Linked DNA regions of Homo sapiens: all the other regions are linked to region 3. Evidence: fine-mapped expression QTL. A gene starts in region 3. Each other region holds a variant in brackets. All regions are shown on one strand. Distances are from middle to middle.

The links. PIP is the estimated chance that this variant, and not a neighbour inherited with it, causes the effect.
Region 1: its variant is fine-mapped to the expression of PI4K2B in whole blood (INTERVAL, PIP above 0.99).
Region 2: its variant is fine-mapped to the expression of PI4K2B in whole blood (INTERVAL, PIP above 0.99).

What each region holds. Positions count from the first base shown.
Region 1 is chr4:25,155,357-25,163,531 of GRCh38, reverse strand. It overlaps SEPSECS (Sep (O-phosphoserine) tRNA:Sec (selenocysteine) tRNA synthase), which reads left to right and starts at 3,083. Exons shown (of 11, transcript NM_016955.4): 1 at 3,083-3,276; 2 at 4,425-4,579; 3 at 6,558-6,676; 4 at 7,337-7,495. The coding sequence starts at 3,163. It overlaps SEPSECS-DT (SEPSECS divergent transcript), which reads right to left and starts at 2,860. Exons shown (of 2, transcript NR_037934.1): 1 at 2,779-2,860. RefSeq lists an enhancer at 2,820-3,119 and a silencer at 3,230-3,399. The variant A/TA (reference allele first, on the strand shown) is at 4,422.
Region 2 is chr4:25,284,701-25,292,883 of GRCh38, reverse strand. No RefSeq gene overlaps it. Among named protein-coding and RNA genes, the nearest start is that of ZCCHC4, 24 kb to the left of the region's middle. The variant C/T (reference allele first, on the strand shown) is at 3,243.
Region 3 is chr4:25,230,370-25,238,552 of GRCh38, reverse strand. PI4K2B (phosphatidylinositol 4-kinase type 2 beta) reads right to left here and starts at 4,520. Exons shown (of 10, transcript NM_018323.4): 1 at 4,122-4,520. The coding sequence starts at 4,389. LOC105374535 (a long non-coding RNA gene) reads left to right here and starts at 4,688. Exons shown (of 4, transcript XR_925490.3): 1 at 4,688-4,764. RefSeq lists enhancers at 3,631-3,760, 3,693-4,192, 4,193-4,694 and silencers at 3,981-4,040, 4,081-4,320, 4,421-4,730.

The sequences.
Region 1 (8,175 bases), 75 kb after region 3:
CTTTCTCTGGTTGGTCTTAAGTTAGAAGCGAGTAATAAAAGAGGGAAGCTGGCAGTCATTGCCCAAGTCTTAACCATTCTTGGCTGATTGCTGCAGAGGTGGTGGTTTGGAAGTCTAGTTGCTAGAGAGGTTGTGGGTGAGAGTTCTGTTATCACATATGATCTGGCCATTGTCCATTTGTATAGTCAGTCTATCTAGGGGAAGATGTCATTGAGCAATTACCTCTCATTTAATCATCATAACTGCCTCTTCCATATCCCCATTTTACAGATAAAGCAAAGCTCAGGAAGTTTGAGTAATGTATTTAAGGTTATACAACTAGTGACCCTAGCAGAATTTAAACCTGTGTGTTCTGGACCTATTTTAAATGATGCTTCATCTTGTAAAGACCATGAGGTTATTCTGATGTTGCCCTATTAAAAATAGTAATTACATACTATTATTAAAAATAGTAATTACATACTATTTTAAAATAGTAGTTACAAACTACTATTTTAAAATAATAATTACATACTATTTTTAATAGATAGCATCATTTAAAATAGGTCCAGAACACACAGGTTTAAATTCTGCTAGTGTCACTCATTGTATAACCTTAAATACATTACTCAAACTTCTTGAGCTTTGCTTTCCTGATCTGTAAAATGGGCATATGGATAAATACTTGTTGGGTGAGTGAATGGATGAAAGTAATTTTAGAATACTTCTCTTGAAATTGCTTCCAAAGCTGGTATCTTTTGAATACCTTTAATGAATGCATATCTTGACAATGACTAACTTTTTGGAAACAGACAAACATTTTTCTGAAGTAAGGTGGTGAATAAGGTAAGAGAAGAAGCTGGCTCAAAAACCTGGCGTGTCCATTCAGTAATGACATTAATTTTGGGATTTTTGCACATTTTGCATGTGATTGACAAAGCAGCTTTGAAGGCTTTTCCAAAGAAGAAGTTGCAAAAATAGTTGCATTTTGAGAATAGGAACACAACTTTCCAAAAGTTTGAAAAATACTCATTTTAGAAAGTATGCTAAATTCTTGTTGTTTTGTGGTTTACCTTTCTGTTTAAAGTAGTTAAATGCTCTATGTCATTCAACAAATATTTATCAAACAGCTATTATGTATTTAGTGCTGTGCTTTGAACACAGATATTGGTATAGCCCTTGTGAACCAGGAGTTCACAGTCTAGTTGAGACAGAAAATTAACAATTGAAATGCAATTCAACAAATACCATAAATAGACTGATTTATATTAATAGCTGGATGCCATGGGAACATGCAGTAGAAACAGTGATGAGCTGGTACATGTTGAACAACTGACTTCTAGGGGAGTGGGTTGGAGTGTAAGGGCCTGATTAGCGGTGTTTACTGATTTCCATGGTGTAAATGCTCCCACCATGGCCAACGTGACATCATCAAAAGAGGAGTTGGAAGATGTGCAGTAGTATAACATTACATTGAATTTCCACCATATAGATAAAATGCATGTAAATAACCTGAAGAGCATAGATAATAGTAAAATGTAAAATAATTAGGAAGTGACAAATTTTGAGTATTTTTACTTTTGCTTGTAATATAATTTTTGAGTGGCTGTATTTGAAAACTAGCTCACAAAATTACTGAACATTTAACAATCAGCTCTTGCAAGTGGGTGTGACTCAGTGCAAATGGACAAACCACCAGGTGAAAGCAATGTCAGGAATTACTGTAGGCTCACATAAGATGAAGATTGTAAGGAAACTGGAGGCAGGGATCTCCAGCAGTGAACCTCTAAGTTGTTGAACTGTTACAGCACTGCCAGGTTCCTATGCCGGCTGTGCAGAAACAGACCAGTATTCCGACAGCAGGCTTGCAGCAGAGAAAGTTTTAATAATCACAAGTTACAAGCCAGGAAACAGGAAGAGTTCTCAAGCTTCAATCCATTTCATCAAGGGGTTCTAGGCAAAGTTTTTTAAGGGGATTTGTGGAGGGTGAGGGGCTGGAAAATTTGGGGTTATCGATTCGTTGGGGTAAGGGAGATGAAATCATTAGGATGTGACAATTGCATTCCTCCATGAATCAGCTTTTTATTGGGCCTTCCAGACAAGTTGGCGTCCTTAGTTTTGTTGGTATGCGGGACCTAAAGAAGCAATGCAAACAGAAAGCTTATCTTCTCATAATGTCTTAGATTTTATCTTCAGAGCAGAAAAAGAATGAAGAGTCTTGTGACAAGGGCCACATTCTCCTGGGGTAGTAAGTAGCAACCAGCTACAAGAAAGTCGGCCACACTGCAAGCTGGCTTAATAACAGCAGCTGTAAGCCTAGTTGGATTTTTTTCCCCTCCTTAATCAATTTTACAAAATGTTCTTGGGGATAGTTTCAGAATGGTCAAACTAATTCATTAATTCAATATCAACTTTTTTTTTAGGCCCTACTTTATTCTGGGCACTGTTTTAGGTGCCCGGGGGAAGGGGGCACCGCAGCAAAAACCGAGGTCCTGCCGTTAGGTTAGAGAGTTTACATTCATGGGTATGGGTGTGTGTGTGTGTGTGTATAAACAAACGTCTGGCATGTCACGTGGTGAGTAGTAAGTGCTATGGCTAAACAGTAGTGTCAAGGGGAAAATGAGTGGGGCACTGCTATTTCCTATGGGGTTGTGAGGCAGTAATAAGTGTGGAAATGTATCAAAGTAAAGATCGAAGGTTCTGGCATCTGACAGTTTGAATAAGGCGGAAGCACAGACCCTGCACAGATCTCAACCATCCAACAGGACTGAAACACAGAACTTGGAAAAACCCACGTACCTGCTTCTTACTCTGCTCGCCCGGTCTGCACAAGTGCAAAATCCTTTCCTGAAGTTTGTGTCAGGAACACCAGGGTTTAACTAGACGAATCAGCCGCAGCGGGGCGGGGCTAATTTCAGTCCTTCCTTTGCCAAAAGTCAGCGAAAAGCGCGGACTCCCTCGCGCATGCTCAAATACGCCAACTTCCTCCTGGAGCGCCATCTGAGAAGGTCTGCGCATGTGCACGAACGAGAAGTGTTTTTTTTGTTTTGTTTTGTTTTGTTTTGTTTTTTGTCCCAAGGCGCTGCCGTACCGTCCAGGCGGCGAGTTGCATTCTGGTTCCGTCGTGTGTCTGGCGTGTGGAGCTAGTGCTCCCGCTTATTCGCCACTGTCGCCACCGCTGTCATGAACCGCGAGAGCTTCGCGGCGGGAGAGCGGCTGGTGTCGCCGGCTTACGTGCGGCAGGGCTGTGAGGCCCGCCGCTCGCATGAGCACCTCATACGGCTGCTTCTGGAGAAGGTACCGAGCTGTCGGTCCCCTCCCCAGCCGCCGCGACCCCGGGGCTCTGGCTCCGCCGGGCGTCCCCGCTGGTGCTGCCTCACCGGCAGCTCTTCGCTGCTTGAGACTAGTCCCAAGTCTGTCTCAGCTTGGCTTGCCCTAGCTGACCGACTGCGGTCTGTGCCTTCTCAGCCTTGCCAAAGCCAGTGAAAGCCAAATGGTGTTGTTAGGAGGGGGTGTTGGGGTCGGGGTTTTGAGTCCCGCTGTTTCTAACTTCGGGATGCGGAAGTGAGGGAAAGTCCCAGTGTACTTTTTTATTCGCGGAAAGGGCAAAGTTCGCACCTCCATCTTTCACCAACCCTCAACGACTCAGAACACATAATGGTGTTTGTAGACTGTATGCTAACTCGAACCACGAGCTTTCCGCGGAACTTCACAGGTCTCCCTCCTGCCAGCGTTCATGTATTTTAATTTCATTAAAAGTTTTGTTGTGTTTTGTTTTTTTGAAACAGAGTCTCGCTCTTTCGCCCAGGCTGGAATGCAGTGTGACGATCTCGGCTCACTGCAGCCTCCGCCTCCCGGGTTCACGCCATTCGCCTGCCTCAGCCTCCCGAGTAGCTGGGACTACAGGCGCCCGCCACCACACCCGGTTAATGTTTGTATTTTTAGTAGAGATGGGGTTTCACCATGTTGGCCAGGCTGATCTCAAACTCCTGACTTCAAGTGATCGGCCATTCTTGGCCTTCCAAAGTGCTCGGATTACAGGCGTGAGTGAGCTACAGCGCGTGGCCAAAATTTCACTGAAGTTTGACAACTACCGCCCTTCTCCACGTCCCACCGCCCCAGTCGTAACGCCCTGGTTTGAAGCATCTTCACTGGGGATGTGTTGTATTGGTTTTCAGTTAGTTTCACTTACGGAAATTTAAATATCTCAGTAAACCTCATTGTATGCATTTATCATCACTTCTCGAAATCTGTAAATAATTGTAATCAAATGTACAAACGTTTTGCCTCTTTGCGGTCTCTATACAGTGGTGAATTTATGCTTGAATTTTAGAAAACAAGCAGCGTGGCAAAATACACGTTAAAAAGAAAAACTGTATTCCTGTAGTATTCTAGAGAACGGTAGTTTTATTAAATATAATCATAAGTTTTTTTTTTTTTTT[A/TA]AGGGCAAGTGTCCAGAGAATGGCTGGGATGAAAGTACACTTGAACTCTTTTTACATGAACTTGCAATCATGGACAGCAACAATTTCTTAGGCAATTGTGGTGTGGGAGAAAGGGAAGGGAGAGTGGCATCCGCACTGGTTGCTCGTCGTCATTACAGGTATCTTTTTTTAAGTAGTACAGGAGATACATCGTTTATTTATTTTTGGTTCAAAATAATGGCAGCAGTATTTATCTTATTAGATTATCAAATGTCAGTTTGTAAACCACTTCTTCCCTGCTCTAATGGATATGTAAGCCAAATGCAACAGGGAGATGGAAACAATTTTATCTCAGCAGGTGCTTTTCAAAGACAATAGAGTAAAAACTAAGTGGGGGTTACCCTGTCAGGTTCTGGGTGACTAACACAGGCTATACGTTTTCTTAGGAACGGTTACCCTAATAAACATATCTGGTTGTAAGAGTTCAAAATCCATTAAGGTTGTTTATAGCTTTCCATATTTCTTTTCTAACATTTGTAGTGTTTTTTTTTTTTGAATGATTTATAGTTATCAACTTTAAATTTTGTTTTAAACTGTGTTTAAACTGAATCTCATTTTATAAATACCTCTGTTGCAATAGATACAGGGAAAGGTGTATTAGATTATTAAGTGACCTTTTTCTTTTGCATTATTGCAGAAAGCTTTTCATCAATTCTGATAACGATTTAATTGGTAGTTAATTGGTAGTTAATATGATCACTCATTGCTCTGTCCACTAACCTTTCTGTGAAGTGTAAACTCTTTTAAATGAAACTCCTGTCTTCCATGCTTTTACATTATAATGAAAATTTCCTGGGCATCGTAGAATTTGTATTTCAGTAAAAACCACTGCAGTCAAAACTGATGATAATGCCTAACTTGGATGAAAATTTCAGTTAACAGTTTGCTGATAACATGGTTGATAATATATGTAAGAAATGTTTTGTACATGAGATTTCAGTGGTGAGGAAGTACAGCACTAGTATTCTTCGATAATCCTCCTATACCGAATTTCTGATATATTTGACTGTCAATTAGAAATTACTCAAATTACGAAAGGGTTTTTTATTTTAAAGAGTATTGAGAGGTATCTTTAAACAATGTATAATATTGTCTAATTTAAAATGAGATTTGCACACTGATTTTCTAGGAGCATATAGTTCTTTTAAAATTAAGGCAATATTTGAACCATCATTGGAACTTAGCCCAGTGTGGAATTAGGGGAAAAGTAAAGAAAAAAGATAATTTGGCCGGGCACGGTGGCTCACGCCGGTAATCTCAGCACTTTGGGAGGCCAAGGCGGGCGGATCACGAGGTCAGGAGATCCACACCATCCTGGCTAACATGGTGAAACCCCGTCTCTACTAAAAATACAAAAAAATTAGCCGGGCGTGGTGGCGGGCGCCTGTAGTCCCAGCTACACGGGAGGCTGAGGCAGGAGAATGGCGGGAACCTGGGAGGTGGAGCTTGCAATGAGCCGAGATCGCGCCACTGCACTCCAGCCTGGGCGACAGAGCGAGACTCCGTCTCAAAACGAAAAAAAAAAAAAAAAAGATAATTTAATATTTCATGTATTCTAGTTTTCTATTGCTACAGAACAAACCACCCTAAAATTAAGTGGCTTAAAACATTTATTGTTACCTCTCATAGCTTTTTGGATTAACTGGGCTCAGCAGGGTGAGTATTGCTTTGGGTCTGTCATGTAGTTGCAGTCAGATACTGGCTGAGAGTTTAGTCATCTGAAGGTTTGCCTAGCATGAAAATTTCACACAGTTACTTCTGCTAGATTCTTCCTGGCCAAGCAAGTTACTAAATTCAGCCCAGATTCAAGTGGAGAGGAAGTAGACTCCATCTCTTGGTGTGGGAGTAGCATGTGGGCATAGGGAGAAAAAGAATTGATGGTGGCCGTCTTTGGAAACTAGCTATCACAGCATAATTGATGAAATTATTTCAATTTAAGTAGGAGAGTTCCACATCATTAATAGTTTGTGACATATATCTGTAACAGCCAAATATTGCTCCTGGTGTTTTTTTGGTTATTACATTTGCATATTTGTACATTGTATTACTCGGAATGCTGAATGTATTTGTCCAGTTTTTGGCCCATTTTTTGCTTAGGTTCATTCATGGCATTGGACGATCCGGTGATATTTCTGCTGTGCAACCAAAAGCTGCAGGCTCTAGCCTTTTGAACAAAATTACCAATTCTTTGGTCCTGGACATTATAAAGCTGGCTGGTATGTACCGTCTTAATCATAATGCTTTTGGCTGTCTGGACACACACACACACCACTGACTCATTTCATTTATTATTGCCCCTTTCCAAAAAGAGTATGAGTGGCTTTTGAAAAGACTTCTTTTTTTTTTTTTTTTTTTTTTTTTTTTGAGACGGAGTCTAGCTCTGTTGCCCAGGCTGGAATGCAGTGGCGCGATCTCGGCTCACTGCAAGCTCCGTCTCCCGGGTTCACGCCATTCTCCTGCCTCAGCCTCCCGAGCAGCTGGGACTACAGGTGCCCACCGCCACGCCTGGCTAATTTTTTTTTGTATTTTTAGTAGAGACGGGGGTCTCACCGTGTTAGCCAGGATGGTCTCGATCTCCTGACCTCGTGATCCGCCCGCCTTGGCCTCCCAAAATGCTGGGATTACAGGCATGAGCCACCGCGCCCGGCCGAAAAGACTTTTTTTTTTTAAATAAAAAGTCTTTAGAATAAGATAGAAAATCAGAGCCATAAGCCCTGAAGTTGAATTTGGCATTGAGCTTTCCAAGAGCGAGTACAGAAACAGAAGCCCTAGGGCTACGACTCTTACTATTTTATATATGAAATATATTATTTCCTCAAGAAGGATGCTGGGTGCTTAGCGGGATAACAGATTTCTGTTTTGCTTCTTATTTGTAGGTGTCCATACAGTAGCCAACTGCTTTGTAGTTCCTATGGCAACTGGTATGAGTCTAACTCTGTGTTTCTTAACATTACGACACAAAAGACCAAAGGCAAAGTATATTATATGGCCACGAATAGACCAGAAGTCCTGCTTTAAATCCATGATCACTGCAGGTAAGAGAAGTGTCATACATAATGTTTTAAACATCATAATTATGAAATTCAGATTTCTTATATAAAGATAGATAAATGAAAAATAAACTAACTCTCTTCCCTATTGCTTTTTTAAAAGAAAAAATTGTAAAATATATGTAACAAAATTTAATGTTTGTATTACTTTATGCAACTTTTAAGTTTATGGATACCTAAATATCTATGGTTCCATAATTATTATTTGTTGGGGGACCTTTGCGTATATACTAGTTAAGTGTACTGTTTTAATTGAAAATGTGAAAACAATTTTTATGCAAAATTTACAGTATACATTTTGTTTTCATAGGAGGCTTTTGTAGGCTATGAGATGGATCAGTGATCCTTAGGCTACTGAAATTTATTATGTTTTTCTTTAGAGGTAAAACATTAAGTAGATGATTGTGATTTGTTTCACTGAGTGAATTGTATTATTATTTATGTCCATCTCTGAAATAAAATGAACTTTAAAATAAAACAGAAATATCACCAGAGAATGAGTGGACTTATTTTTCTGTGGATTGAAACTGAACTGGATTAAAGTGATCCTTTTTGTCATCAGTGTCTATGTTATTACTTCTATAGATATCTATTTAACATTTGTTTTCCTTACTTTCCAGAATTCATTCTTGTCATATCCAAGTGTTAAATAGACTTATGGTCCT
Region 2 (8,183 bases), 54 kb before region 3:
GGTAGAAACGGGGTTTCATCATGTTGTCCAGGCTGGTCTTGAACTCCTGGGCTCAAGAGATCTGCCCGCCTCCCTCCCAAAGTGCTGGGATTACAGGCATGAGCCACTGCATATAGCCCAGAAATAAAATTTTATGCTTTTATACTTAAAACTTTATATTTTGGTACCCTTTGGGTCTGCTTCCATACTGTCCTAGCCCAGAGGTAACCACAATTCTGAAGAAGGAGACCATTCCTGTCCACATATTCATATACTTACATATATGCCTATGTCAAAAAGCAACATATAGTACTGCTTTGTATTTACAAAAAGGATACGGTTAAATACTTGTGCAAATTTTTCCTTCAACACTGTGTTGAGGTTTATGTACACAATTTGATACATGTAGCTATAGTTCATTTATTTTCACTGTTCTATAGTCTTCCATAGTATGAGCATACCACAATTTACTTATCCATTTTCCTGCTGTCAGATCTTTAGGTTGTTCTCAATTTTTCAGTGTTATAAACACCACAGCATTGAACAACCTTGCATATGTCTGCTTGCATGCATTAGTACCACAAGGTATTTGCACCTTCAGTTTTACCAGATAATTGCTCTCCAGAATGAGGCTGAGGTAGGTAGATCATTTGAGTTCAGGAGTTTGAGAACAGCCTGGGCAACATGATGAAACCCCGTCTCTATTAAAAATACATAAAACTTAGCCAGGTGTACTGGTGTGTGCCTTTAGCCCTAGCTACTTTGGGGGCTGAGGAAGGAGGATCACTTGAACCTGCGAGGTCGAGGCTTCAGTGAGCCGAGATTGCACCACTGCACTCCAGCTTGGGTGACAAATTGAGACTCTACCTCAAAAAAACAAAAACAAAAACAAACAAACAAACAAACAACAACAAAAAACAACGAAATGACTGTACCAATTTTTCCCAAATCTGATCCATTTGAAATGGTAAATCATTTTTTATTATTGTATGAAGGATAATCCACATACAACGAGCTGTACAATTTGATGGTCTTTCACGAATGTCTTCACTTGTGAAACCAGAACCATGATCAAGATAAAAAATATCTCCAGGGGCCAAGATGGCTGACTAGAAACAGCTGTAGTCTGGGCCTGCCGCTGAGAAGAACAAAAATGGCAACTGAGGTATCCAGGTTCTTTCATTGGGACTGGCTAGGAGGTTGGTGCGACCCATGGAGAGCGGGTAAAAGCAGGGTGGTGACAGCCCACCTGGGAGCCACACGGGGTAAGGGGAGCTCCCACCCGTCTAAACCCAAAGAATGGACTTAGAGGCATGAAGAACAGCAAAAGTGAGACTTTTAATAACAGTCTTGCAAGATTGGGTGTCTGGTGAGCAGGCACATCCACGGCAGTCACAACAGGTAATTTATCTCCTAGCACGCAAGTCCCTCCCCCAGTTCCTCATTGGTTGAGTACTATGGGGTTACAATCTTCCCAGTTGTCGCCTAAGTTTCATTATCCCTCTTATAAGGTTATACCCCGTCCCCTTCTCCACTTCAGTTTTGATTTCGCAATAATGAAACTTTCTTCTCTCTCGTGGGTTGACCCCTCCTCTACATTCTGTTCTCTTATTGTGACCTTCTAGGCGCATGAGCCATGCGGTTTGTCACATTTGCAGACTGGCTGCCATACTTAGATTTATCATGCCTTGAAAATGGACCATTTCAAATATTTTCTCACAGAGAAACCACACTTTTTCTATGGATCTGTGCAACCCGCAGATCAGGAGGTCCCTCTTGTGAGCCCATGCCTTGGGACCTTGGTTCCCAAGCACAGAGCTGTGCAGATTCTCAGTGGCCACTCAGCTGGAGACTGCTGAAGACTACTGAGCTACTGAGTTCCGGGGTGCAGGGAGGCGGGGAGCCATTATCACTGCAGCTGCCTTTGGCCTAAGACAACTGAGCTCCCCGGGGGAGGGGCAGCAGTCATCACTGCAGCTCTAGTCTGTAGTTTGGATCCAGGAGGAATTTTCCACAGTGCAGCACAGTGGCTGTGGCTGATTGTGGCCAGACTGCCTCCTCACTAGGCGGGGCCTCCCTGCGGGAATTTCAGCAATTCCAGCCAGGGGTTTATGGACAAAACTCTAATCTCCCTGGGACGAAGCCCTGTAGGGAGGGATGGTCGCGGTCTCTGTGGATCAGCAGACTTAGTCTTTCCACCAGCTGGCTCTGAGAAGTCCAGGCAGTCCAGATGAGTGGGATTCCCCACAGCACAGTGCACCATCTCCGCTAAGGGGCAGCCAGAGTGCTTCGTTAAGCAGATCCCTGATCCTGTGCCTCCTAATTAGGTGAGACCTCCCAACAGAGGTTGCCAGACACCTTATACAAGACCGTTCCTGCTAGTATTAAGTTGGTGCCCCTCTGGGACAGAGCTCCCAGAGAAAGGAGCAGGCAGCCATCTTTGCTCTTCTGCAGCCTCCACTGGTGACACCTTCAGGTCCAGGAGGGACCCAGGAAAATAGGGTTGGGAGTGGACCCCCAGCAAATCGCAGCAGCCCTATGGAAGAAGGGCCTGACTGTTAAAAGAGAAACAAGCAAACAGAAAACAACAACAACAACAGCATCAACAAAAAAGTCCCCACAAAAACCCCATCCCAAGTTCAGCAGCCTCAAAGATTGAAGCTAGATTAACTCTCAAAGATGAGAATCAACGAAAAATTGCTGAAAACTGAAAAAGCCAGAGTGCCTCTTCTCCTTCAAATGGTTGCAACACCTTTCTACCAAGGGCACAGATTTGGGCAGAGGCTGAGATGGATGAATTTGACAGAAGCAGGCTTCAGAAGGTGGGTAATAACAAACTTCACTGAGCTAAAAGAACATGTTCTAACTCAATGCAAAGAAGCTAAGGAACATGATAAAACAATACAGGAGTTGTTACCAGAATAACCAGTGTAGAGAGGAGCATAAATAACCTGATGGAGCTGAAAAACAACACAAGAACTTCACAATGCAACCACAAATATCAATAGCCGAATAGACCAAGTGGAGGAAAGAATTTCAGAGCTTGAAGACTATCTTGCTGAAATGAGACAGGCAGATGAAATTAGGAAAAAAAAAAAAAAAGAATGAAAAGGAACAAACGAAATCTCTGAGAACTATGGGATTATAGAAAAAGACCAAACCTACAACTGATTGGGGTACCTGAAAGAGACAGGGAGAAGAGAACCAAGTTGGAAAACATACTTTAGGATATCATCCAGGAGAACTTCCCCAACCTAGCAAGA[C/T]GGGCCAACGTTCCAATTCAGGAAATCCAGAGAATTCCTGTAATATACCCCGTGAGAAGATCAACCCCAAGACACATATTTATTTACCTCCAAGGTCAAAATGAAGGAAAAAATGTTAAGGGCAGCCAAAGAGAAAGGCCAGATCACCTACAGAAAGAAGGCCATCAACCTAACAGTGGACCTCTCAGCAGAAACACTACAAGCCAGAAGAGATTGGGGCTCAATATTCCACATTCTTAAAGGAAAGAATTTCCAACCCAGAATTTCATGTCTGCCCAAATTAAGCTTCCTAAGTGAAAGAGAAAATCCTTTTCAGACAACCAAATCCTGAGGCAATTCATCACCTCCAGGCCTGCCTTGCAAGAGCTCTTGAAGGAAGCACTAAATATGGAAAGGAAAAACCATTAATGGCCACTACAAAAACACACTGAAGTACAAAAACCAATGACACTATGAAGCAACTACATCAGCAAGTATGCAAAATAGCCAGCTAGCATCACGATGACAGGATAAACTTCACACATAACAATATTAACCTTAAATATAAATGGGCTAAATGCCCCAATTAAAAGACACAAAATGTCAAGCTGAATAAAGAGTCAAGACCCATCAGGTCCTGTATTCAAGAGACCCATCTCATGTGCAAAGACACACATAGGCTCAAAATAAAGAGATGAAGGAAAATTTACGAAGCAAATGGAAAGCAGAAAAATGCAAGAATTGCAATCCTGGTTTCTGACACAACAGACTTTAAACTAACAAAGAAAAAAAAATTAAGAAGGGCATTACATAATGGTAAAGGGTTCAATTCAACAAGAAGAGCTAACTATCCTAAATATATATTCACCCAACACAGGAGTACCCAGATTCATAAAACAAGTTCATAGAGACCTACCAAGAGACTTAGACTCCCACACAATAATAGTGGGAGAATTTAACACCCCGCTGTCAATATTAAACAGATCATTGAGACAGAAAATTAACAAAGATACTCAGGACTTGGACTCAGCTGTAGATCAAGTGGACCTGATAGATATCTACAGAACTCTCCACCCAAAACAACAGAATATACATTCTTCTCAGTGCCACATGGCACTTACTCTCAAATCCATGACATAATTGGAAGTAAAACACTCCTCAGCAAATGCATAAGAACTGAAATCATAACAGTCTCTCAGACCATAGCACAATCAAATTAGAACTCAAGATTAAGAAACTCACCCAAAACCACACAACTACATGGAAACTAAACAACCTGCTCCTGAATGTCTACTGGGTAAATAATGAAATTAAGGCAGAAATCAAGAAGTTCTTTGAAACCAAGGATAACAAAAAGACAACGTACCAGAATCTCTGGGATGCAGCTAAAGCAGTGTTAAGAGGGAAAGGTATAGCACTAAATGTCCACAACAAAAAGCTAGAAAGATCTCAAATTGACACTGTAACATCACAACTAAAAGAACTAAAGAACCAAGAGCAAAAAAACCCTAAAGCTAGAAGAAGACAAGAAATAACCAAGATCAGACTGGAACTGAAGGAGATGGAGACATGAAAAATCCTTAAAAAAAATCAACTAATCCAGGAGCTGGTTTTTTGAAAAAATTTATAAAATAGACTACTAGCTAGACTAATAAACAAGAAAAGAGAGGAGAATCAAACAGACACAATAAAAAAATGATAAAGTAGATATCATAACTGATCCCACAGAAATGCAAGCAACCATTAGAGAAAACTATAAACACCTCTATGCAAATAAACTAGAAAATTTAGAAGAAATGGATAAATTCCTGTATATATACACCCTCCCATGACTGAATCAGAAAGAAGTTGAATTCCTGAATAGAACAGTAACAAGTTCTGAAATTGAGGCAGTAAGAAATAGCCAACCAACAAAAAAAAGTCTAGGACCAGATGGATTTACAGCTGAATCCTACCAGAAGTATAAAGAGAAGCTGGTACCATTTCTTCTGAAATTATTCCAAACTATAAAAGGAGACTATCCTCCCTAACTCATTTTATGAGGCCAGCATCATTCTGATACCAAAACCTGGCAGAGATAAAACAAAAAAAGAAACTTCAGGCCAATATTCCTGATGAACATCAATGCAAAAATCATCAATAAAATACTGGCAAACTAAATCCAGCAGCAAATCAAAAAGCTTATCCACCACAATCAAGTCAGCTTCATCCCCAGGATGCAAGGCTGGTTCAATGTATGCAAATCAATAAGCATAATTCATCACATAAACAGAACTAAAAACAAAAACCACAAGATTATCTCAATAGATGCAGAAAAGGCCTTCAGTAAAATTCAGCATCCTTTCATGTTAAAAACTCTCAATAAACTAGGTATTGATGGAACACACCTCAAGATAATAAGAGCCATTTATGACAAACCCACAGCAATATCATACTGAATGGGCAAAAGCTGGAAGCATTCCCCTTGAAAACTGGCATAAGACAAGGATGCTCTCTCTCACCACTCCTATTCAACATAGTATTGGAATTTCTGGTCAGGGCGATCAGGCAAGAGGAAAAAACAGAGGATTCAAATAGGAAGAGAGAAAGTTAAACTGCCTCTGTTTGCAGATGACATGATCCTATACCTAGAAAACCCCATTGTCTTGGCCCAAAAGCTTCTTAAGCTGATAAATAACTTCAGCAAAGTCTCAGGATACAAAATCAATATGCAAAAGTCACAAGCATTCCTGTCCAAAAACCATAGACAAGCAGAGAGCCAAATCATGAATGAACTCCCATTCACAATTGCTACAAAGAGAATAAAATACCTAGGAATACAGCTAACCAGGGAAGTGAAGGACCTCTTCAAGGAGAACAACAAACCACTGCTCAAGGAAGTCAGAGAGGACACAAACAAATGGAGAAATATTCCAAGTTAATGGAGAAGAAGAATCAATATTGTGAAAATGGCCATACTGCCCAAATTAATTCATAGATTCAATGCTATTCCCATTCAACTACCTCAGACCTTCTTCACAGAATTAGAAAAAACTACTTTGAAATTCATATAGAACAACAACAAAAAAAGCCCGTGTAGCAAAAACAATCTTAAGCAAAAAGAACAATACATATTACCCAACTTCAAACTCTACTACAAGGCTACAGTAACCAAAACAGCATGGTACTGGTACAAAAACAGACACATAGGGCAATGAAACAGAATAGAGATCTCAGAAATAAGACTGCACATCTACAACCATCTGATCTTCAACAAACCTGGCAAAAACAAGCAATAAGGAAAGAATTCCCTATTTAATCAATGGTTCTGGGAGAACTGGCTAGCCATATGCAGAAAATTGAAACTGGACCCCTTTCTTACACCTTCTATAAAAATTAACTCAAGATGGATTAAAAACTTAAAGGTAAAACCCCAAACTGTAAAAACCCTAGAAGAAAATCTAGGCAATACCCATTCAGGACATAGGCATGGGCAAAGATTTCATTACAAAAAGGTCAAAAGCAATTGCAACAAAAGCAAAAATTGACAAATGGGATCTAATTAAACTAAAGAGCTTCTGCACAGCAAAAGAAACTATTATTGGTGAGAAAGACAACCTACAGAATGGGAGAAAATTTTTGCAACTACACAAAGGTCTAATATCCATAGTCTAAAAGAACTTAAACAAATACACAAGAAAAAAACAAACAACCCTGTTAAAAAGTAGACAAAGGACATGAACAGACACTTCTCAAAAGAAGACATTTATGCAGCCAACAAACATGAAAAAAAGCTCAACATCACTGACCATTAGATAAATGCAAATCAAAACTACAGTGAGGCTGGGCACAGTGGCTCATGCGTATAATCCCAGCACTTTGGGAGGCCAAAGCAGGTGGATCACTTGAGGTCAGGAGTTCAAGACCAGCCTGGCCAACGTGCTGAAACCTGTCTCTACTAAAAATACAAAAATTAGCCAGGCATGGTGGTGTGTACCTATAGTCCCAGCTACTTGGGAAGCTAAGGCAGCAGAATCGCTTGAACCCAGGAGGCAGAGATTGCAGTGAGGGGAGATCACACCACTGCATTCCAGCTTGGGCAACAGAGTGAGACTCCTTCACTCACACACACAAAAAACTACAATGAGATAACATCTCATGCCAGTCAGAATGGTGATTATTAAAAAGTCAAGAAACAACAGATACTGGTGAGGGTGTGGAGAAATAGGAACACTTTTACACTGTTGGTGGGAATGTAAATTAGTTCAACCATTGTGGAAAACAGCGTGGGGATTCCTCAAAGATCTAGAACCAGAAATACCATTTGACCCAGAAATCCCATTGCCGGGTATATACCCAAGGAATACAAATCATTCTTTTTTTTTTTTTTTTGAGATGGAGTCTCGCTCTGTCGCCCAGGCTGGAGTGCAGTGGCGTGATCTCGGCTCACTGCAACCTCCACCTCATGGGTTCAAGCAGTTCTTCTGCCTCAGCCTCCCTAGTAGCTGGGACTACAGGCGCCCACCACCAAGCCCGGCTAATTTTTTGTATTTTTTTTGGTAGAGAAGGGGTTTCACCTTGTTAGCCAGGATGGTCTCCATCTCCTGACCTCGCAATCCCCCCGCCTCGGCCTCCCAAAGTGCTGGGATTACAGGCGTGAGCTACCGCGCCCGGCCAGAATACAAATCATTCTATTATGAAGACACATGCATATGTATGTTCATTGCAGCACTATTCACAATAACAAAGACATGGAATTATTATTATTATTGTCAACCCGAATGTCCATCAATGATAGACTGGATAAAGAAAATGTGGTAAATGTATACCGTGGAATTCTATGCAACCTTAAAAAGGAATGAAATCATGTCCTTTGCAGGGACATGGATGGAGCTTGAAGCCATTATCCTCAGCAAACTATGCAGGAACAGAAAAACAAATACCACATGTTCTCACTTACAAGTAGAAGCTGAACAGTGAGAA
Region 3 (8,183 bases):
GAACATCAGAAGGAACAAACTCCGAACACACCGCCTTTAAGAACTGTAACACTAACCGCGAGGGTCCATGGCTTCATTCTTGAAGTCAGTGAGACCAAGAACCCACCAATTCCGGACACAATAGCACCAGTAGTTAAAACCATTTCTGCTGAAATGGACTTTAGGGAAGTTATAAGAACTACCTTTATGAAATTAATCACTTTAATCACAGATATTGTTCAGCATACAGCATTCACCAAGAGACTGTGACAGGCTACCCTTTGTCTGTTCTGTTTTGGTTCAAATAACCAGTTTATTTTAACTGTATAGACCACATGATTGTGTTTCTCTCAAGTTAGCTGCTCAGTAATTTCAAAAATCAAATCTGTGGGTTGCCTGCATCAAGCATCTGAGGTACATCTTGTGTAATCTTACTCCAGGCTCCATCTTCTCATCTTTCTTCCTTTTAAATGATTTTCTTATTCTGTTCACATATTTATAAACCACCATGAATCATTAAATGACTTACAAATTCACATTTTCTTTTACTTTGGCAGCTCTTTGTGAATTCTAACACTGTTTTCTAACTGTTAGGCTCTCTAACAGGAGCTAAGCGCTCCTGATTTGTATTAACTGGGACCTTGGAGAAGTCACTTCACTTCTTTGTGCTTTTTCTTTTTTTCTTTTGAGACAGGGTCTTTTTCTGTAACCCAGGCTGGAGTATAGTGGTGCAATTATAGCTCACTGGACTCAGTGTAACCTGAAACTCATGGACTCAAGCAATCCTCCTGCCTCGGTCTCCTGAGTAGCTTGGACTACAGGTGTGCACCAAAGAGGCCTCCCAAAGTGTTAGGATTACAGGCGTAAGCCACCATGCCCAGCCTCTCCCTATACTTTCTTAAAATGAGAACAAGGCCAGGCATGGTGGCCTTGTAATCTCAGTGCTCTGGGAAGCCGAGGCGGGAGGATCATCTGAGGTCAGGAGTTCGAGACCAGCCTGACCAACATGGTGAAACCCCGTTTCTACTAAAAATACAAAATTAGCCAGGCATGTGCCTGTAATCCCAGCTACTTGGGAGGGTGAGGCAGGAGAATCGCTTGAACCTGGGGAGTGGAGGTTGCAGTTAGCCGAGATTACGCCATTACAATCCAGCCTGGGTGACAGGAATGAAACTCTGTTCCCCCACTGCCACCCCTACAGCCACCCACTGCCAAAAACAAAAAAAAAAAACAAAAATAGTACTCACATCACAGGGTTGGTTATGAATTAATATATATGAAGCATACAGAACTATGCCTAGCGCATATTAACTGCTATGTAGGCATTAGCTGTCATTACTACCGAATTCACTGATTAAAATAACTAGAACAAGGAATGCACTAATCCTTCCACTTTGACACTGATCCAACAACACTATGGTTTATGCTGTTTGTAGGCTTTGTTAAATGCCTTGTTGAAGATAACAGACATATGACATTCTTCCACTGGCTAAAGTACATAAACCTCTTGCTTATATAAGTAAGAGTTAAGCATCATAAATGATGTTCATATTAATCTAAAGGCAAGAATTTCTTGGAACTAGTGAGGTAGTTTCATGGAAATCGGATGGTAAAGGACAAATGAAGTTAATGGAGTCATTTAAAAAATAACTAAACTTAAAAAGTATTAAATTACTCAATCATGAACATTTTAGTCTTTAAAAATTTTTTAAACAGTTTTCACAGAAACTATTTTAAAGTCCTATTAAAGGTAAAAACCTCCAAAATAACCACAGACACAATTATTTTATAACACTTGTGGACCCATGGCAAAACGGAAAAGGGGCAGAAGATGAAGAAAGAACCAGGCTTCCTCCTGATTTATTACTTCCTGGATATTTGACTTCGGGCAAACCATTTACCTCTGAAGACCTGAGCTACCAGTCATTACCAGTTTATTAATTCTGAATCCTCATAATGAGAATAATGGCGAATAACAACTAACTTGCTGTGCTGTTGTGAAAATAATTAATTTTTTTTTTGAGACAAAGTCTCACTCTGTCACCCAGGCTGGAGTGCAGTGGAGCCATCTCTGCTCACTGCAACCTACACCTCTCGGGTTCAGAAGCGATTCTCCTGCCTCAGCCTCCCAAGTAGCTGGAATTGCAGGCGCCCGCCACCATGCCTGGCTAATTTTTCTATTTTTAGTAGAGGCAGGGTTTCACCATGTTGGCCAGGCTGGTCTGAAAACTCCTGACCTCAAATGATCCACCCACCTAGGCCTTCCAAAATGCTGGGATTACAGGCATGAGCCATGGCACCCAACAGAGAATAAAATTTATTTATTTATTTATTTATTTATTTATTTATTTATTTATTTATTTATTTTTGAGACAGAGTCTTGCTCTGTCTCAAGACAGAACCAGGCTGGAGTGCAGTGGAGAATAAAATATTTTTTTAAAAAAGATCTTAGCAAATTGTAAACTGTGATACAGGTAAGATATTACCTTTAAAAAAGGTAGGAATTCTAAGAATCCATTTGTATTCTAACACTATACTCTATCCTCACTTTGAATTTTTGTTGTTGTTGTTGTTTATTTTTTATAGAGATGGGGATCTCGCTATGTTGCCCAGGTGGGTCTCGAACTTCCAGCCTCAAGCTATTCTCCTGCCTAGACCTCCCAAAATGCTGGGATGGGATTACAGGCCTGCCATCTCGTTGACCTCTCGCTTTGATTTTTTTCTAGCCTTAATACTGTTTGTTTATAAAACACCTCACTTTCACAGAACAAGTGCATTTTGAAGGCTTTAGGCTCTTTTAAAAACCCAGGTACACAAGGTAGCTTACACAAGGTAAGGGACAGAAAAAGGCAAGCTAGCTATTTTACAGACTAAATTCTAAGTAACATATACCCAAATTGCCAATGTAGCTAGGCAAATGCAGACCCGTTTGTGATCTGGTTTCAGCTTCACGTTGTTTGGTTAAACGTCAATGCATCCATCAGGTAACATTATAACGGGAGCAGACGTTGGTTAAAGCTTAAACAATCAGACAAACTGCTCCCCTTGGGATTCTCTGATTTATTTACTCTAGAATATGCCTGAATGTAGCCTCTAGCTAGAACTTGAGTGACCGATTCTATCCAAAATTCTTTAAACTGTAAAGGACACATTAGTGTACCACTAACAGTACATTTAAAATCTAACAATTCCAAAAAAAACTAAGCAGTGTTAAAGAAACTTCCATTTTCTGTGGTTTTTAAGTTGTCATGTGTGAAGCGATAAACCAACCGGGTGCACAACATCTCATTTAATCCATCCTCACAACCAGCAGGGAGGTGTACCATCGCCTTTTTACAAACAAGTCTGTCTCACCTCTAGCTGAGAGTCTTACAAGTCTCTTGCTATTTCCATCACATTTGTCTAACTCCATTCAACACGCCAGAAAAACTCACTTTATTAATAAATATCCAGGCCTGCACAGCATACCTAAATTTAACCTTCAACATCATTTCAACTGCCCTGTTTCGCCTGAGGTTATCAGTCCGCTTAATAGCGAAAAGAGGTTTTTCGTTTTGGTTTTCTTATGTATTAGAAGTAAATCAAGAAAGAGAAACTAAACTGTAAGAGGGCAGGAACAGACTTTCAACTGCTTTTGCCCCCTGTGGCTAACTTCATAATAACAACATTTAATAGAAAAAGGTTTTGAAACGTGCCCCAGTGGCAACTGGATATTCTGGCTGTCCATCTCTCTCCTGTCATCCACTTTGCAAATTCACCACTCCGGGAACTTTCCTGAGAGTTCAAGGTTCTTAATTCAAAAGTCAAGTCCAAACTTGAGCAAGGACTTACGTCATTTTACAGCGTTAACCTCTCCCCAGTGTCGGTTTCTAGAAGTTTTGACTCACTTTGCGGGGAGGTCTAAAGAATCGGTTTAATGACAACCACTGGCCTTAGGAGAGGGAGCTCCCGGAGAAAGAGCGAGCAAGCTAGGTGCCCGCGGTGCGGCTGCGGCTGGCGCCGGTCCGAGCTCGGGAGCTGCTGCCCAGCGAGCGGGGAAAGCCCGTCCACCTCGGCCAGCGCGCGCGGGAGACAGGACCGAGCCGGGCGACAGGGGCAGCCGCCCGGAGGGGCGCGGGGAGTGGGGCAGGGCCGGGTCGCACCTGAAACCGCGGGGCGGCTCCGGTCCAGCTCGGCGGACGAACTCCGGGAGACCCCCACGTCCCCGGGCGGGAGGGGCAGCTCCTCGTCGCCGGCCTCGCCCTCCTCCCCGGCAGCGTCCAGCAGCCTCACGGCGCTGCCTGGGGCGCCTCTCCGCGGGTGGGCCCAGGCGATCCGCGGTAGCAGCGGCTCCCGCTCCCCATCCTCCTCCTCCTCCGGGCTCCCGCCGTCCGCGGACGCCAACCGGTCGGGCTCGGAGGGATCCTCCATGGACTCCCTCTGCTCCCTCCGCGCTGAGACCAGATCAGAGCAGCCAGGTGCCAGAGACTGGGCTCTGCATGGCGCGGAACGGGAGCGACCGGGTAGAACGGACGCCACCTCACCAGCGCACGGGCACGCTTGGCGCCCGCCCAGCGGTTGTCCCGCCTCGCCGCCGGCCGCGCCCCACCTCGCGCCTCCGCCAGGCACCACCCCCGCGCCTGCGCAGAAGGGTCGTGGCGGCGGCGGCGGCGGCAGCGGGGCACGTGGGAGTGAACAGGGGGCGGGGCTTTTGAGGGGTCAGGTGGGGTGGGGCCGCCACCTGCTTCCGTGAGCGCGGGGAGAAGCTGGGCACAGCTCGCTTTACTCCCAGTGGAGGGCGGGAAGGTGAGTAATTTTCAAAGAGGTGCCCTCCTGCAACCAAAAGCGGCTTCTCCCTGACAGAATTCTCTCTCAGAGTTTACCATAATCTGTAACTATAGATTTAATTGTATGACATTTCTTTCCTCCAGTAGACGTCCAGGAGGGCAGGGACCTTGTCTTTGTTCAGATATTCTTGATAGTGGCAGTTTGTATGTTTTCTTTTTCTGACTAATCTAGCTAGAAGTTTATCAATTTTTAAATCTTTTCAAAATGTCATGTTTTGGTTCCATTGATTTTCTGTTTTCTGGTCCATTGCCTTATTTTGCTCTTTATTGCTCACTTGAGTTTTGATTTCCTCTTCTTTTTCTAGTTGCTTAGAGTAGAAGATGATTGATTCTGGATCTTTCTGCTTTTCCAATGCTAGTATTTTAAGGCTATAAATTGCCCTCTAAGCACTGCTTTAGCTGAATTCTCCTTTTTTTTTTTCTTGGTGGTTGTTATTTTTGAGACAGGGTCTCACTTTGTTATCCAGGCTGGAGTGCAGTGACACAATCATAGCTCACTGCAGTCTCAACCTCCTAAGCTCAAGGGATCTTCTCAGCTTTAAACTGTAGAAGACACAGTAGCTGGAACTGCAGGTGTGCACGACCACATCCTGTTAATTTTTAAATTTAAATTTTTTGTAGAGATGGGATCTCACTGTTGCCCAGATTGGTCTTGAGCTCCTGGTCTCAAGCAGTCGTCCTGCTTCAGCATCCCAAAATTCTGGGATTACAAGCATAAGCCACCTTGCCTGGCCTGCTACTGTGCTTTTGTTTTCCTTCAGCTGAAAATAGTTTTTAATTTCCTTTATGATTTCCTCTTTGACCCTGTAAAGGAAAATAAAAATCTCAGAACCACCCCCCACCCCCAACTTGTTATGTCAAAGGGAGAGTTAAGCCTGGAGACTGAAGTCACTCAACACTACAATGCTTTTCCCAAATGGATAGCTGTTACTTCCCATAGTTGTATTAAAACTTTATATGTTAGCCAGACCCTCCTCAAAATGCAAAAAAAAGCCTTATGCATCTCAGTCTCAGGATGACTGTCCTCAACAAATTAATCATAGTAAATTCTTTACTGGCCCTTAAACCTTTCAAGATGTATATCCTTCCATAAAACAAGGACGTGTCAATTGTATAACTTTAAGTCTGCAACCTAAATCAAACTGGTACAACTAAAGTCTGTTAAATTTCACATGGATAAATTCAGTTACAAGCTTATCTTCCCAGATGCAGAACAAGGATAAGATCAATCATTCCTTCACCTGAGATATCTGTATAATTAACTTCCTTTACTCCATTTTCTTTGAATATTCACCTTATCTTATGCATAGCATAGAGTTACTGGGCACTACCTAAAGTCTAGCAAAAATGTAACCATTTGCTTCACCACCTACAACCCTCTTCCCTGATGCCTTCTCCGCTTTAAAGAAAGAATAGCTGTAATTACAGGTGCCTGCCACCATGCACGGCTAATTTTTGTATTTTTTAGTAGAGATAGGGTTTCACCACATTGGCCAGGCTGGTCTCGAACTCCTGACCTCAGATGATCCACCCGCCTCGGCCTCCCAAAGTGCTGGGATTACAGGTGTGAGGTACTGCACCTGGCCTGTAAATGCCTTTTAATTGGAGTTTGGGGTCCATTTACATTTAATGTAATAATGATGTGGTTGGATTTAGATCTATTATTTTGCAATTTGGGTTTTATTTGCTTTAACCTTTTCGGTTCCTCTGTTCCTCCTTTCCTGCCTTCGTTTGGATTAATTCAATAATTCTGATTATTTCATTTTCATTCCACCATTGACTTTCTGTTATACTTATTTTTTTTCTTTTTTTGAGATGGAGTTTCACTCTTGCTGCCCAGGTAGGAGTGCAGTGGTGCAATCTTGGCTCACTGCAACCTCTGTCTCCTGGGTTCAAGCTATTCTCCTGCCTCAGCCTTCTGAGTAACTGGGACTACAGGCACATGCCACCATGCCCAGCTAATTTTTGTATTTTTAGTAGAGACGAGGTTTCACCATGTTGGCCAAGATGTTCTTGATCTCCTGACCTTGTGATCCACCCACCTGAGCCTCCCAAAGTGCTAGGATTACAGGCATGAGCCACCACGCCTGGCCTCTGTTATACTTCTTTACATTAATTTTTAGTGCTTACACTAGGGTTTTCAATACTCATCCTTAAATTATCTCAGTGTACTAAGAGCCAATATTGTACTATTTGACATAAGAGGTAAGAACTTAGTGTCATTCCATTTATGCCCCATCGTTTATGTTATTGCTGTCATGTATACTAGACCTAAATATTTAAATACAGTGAATAATTTTTGCCTTAATTGCTTTTTTAGAGAAATTACCCACATAGTTACAACTTCCGGTGTTCTTCCTTCCTTTTTGTAGATCAGAGTTTCTATCTAGTATCATTTCCCTTTCCTCTGAAGAATTAAAAACAAATTTTATAATGCAGATTTGCTGATTAATATGGCTTGGCTGTGTCTCCACCAAATCTCATCTTCAATTCCCACGTGTTGTGGGAGGTGGGAGGTGGGAGGTGATTGAGTCATGGGGGCAGATCTTTCCAATACTGTTTTCATGATGGTAAGTGAGTCTCATGAGATCTGATGGTTTGAAAAACAGGAGTTTCCCTGCCCAAGCTCTCCTTGCCCGCTCCCATCCACGTTAGATGTGACTTTCTCCTCTTTGCCTTCCCCCATAATTGCAAGGCCTCCCCAGCCATGTGAAATTGTAAGTCCAGTAAACCTCTTTCTTTTGTAAATTGCCCAGTCTCAGGTATGTCCTCATCTGCAGCATGAAAACAGACTAATACACTGGTGATAAATTTAAGTTTTAATTTATTAGAAATTGTCTTTATTTTACCATCATTTTCAAATGCTATGTCCTCTGGATACAGACTTCTGGGTTGATATTGCTATCCTTACCCATCTAAGTTCAACTGTAAATATGTCATTCTATTGTCCTCTTGCCTTCATTGTTTTTGAATCATAACCCTTCACTTACACACCCGACTTGTGCTATGTCATTTTCTCTAGCTGCCTTTAAGATTTTCTCTGGTTCTTTGGTTCTTTGATTTTCAATAGTTTGACCATGATGTTTTTGGTATGATTTTCTTTACAAATATCTTGCTTAGGTTTTGCTTTACTTCTTGAATCTGTAGATTTATGTTTTCCACAAAATTTGGAGAAATGTCATTCTTTTTTTTTTTAGAAGCAGTTTATTACCTTAAAGCATTTAGCAAACCTAATGTCTGACCTAATTTCAACCAAATGTCTTTATTTTACCAATAATCTTCAAAACTCTTGATTTCCCAAAGCCTACTAAAGTCATGCTGTCACAGGCCATTAGACAGCATGAGCAGGGCAGGAAAGGGCTCTTCTCCCACCCACCA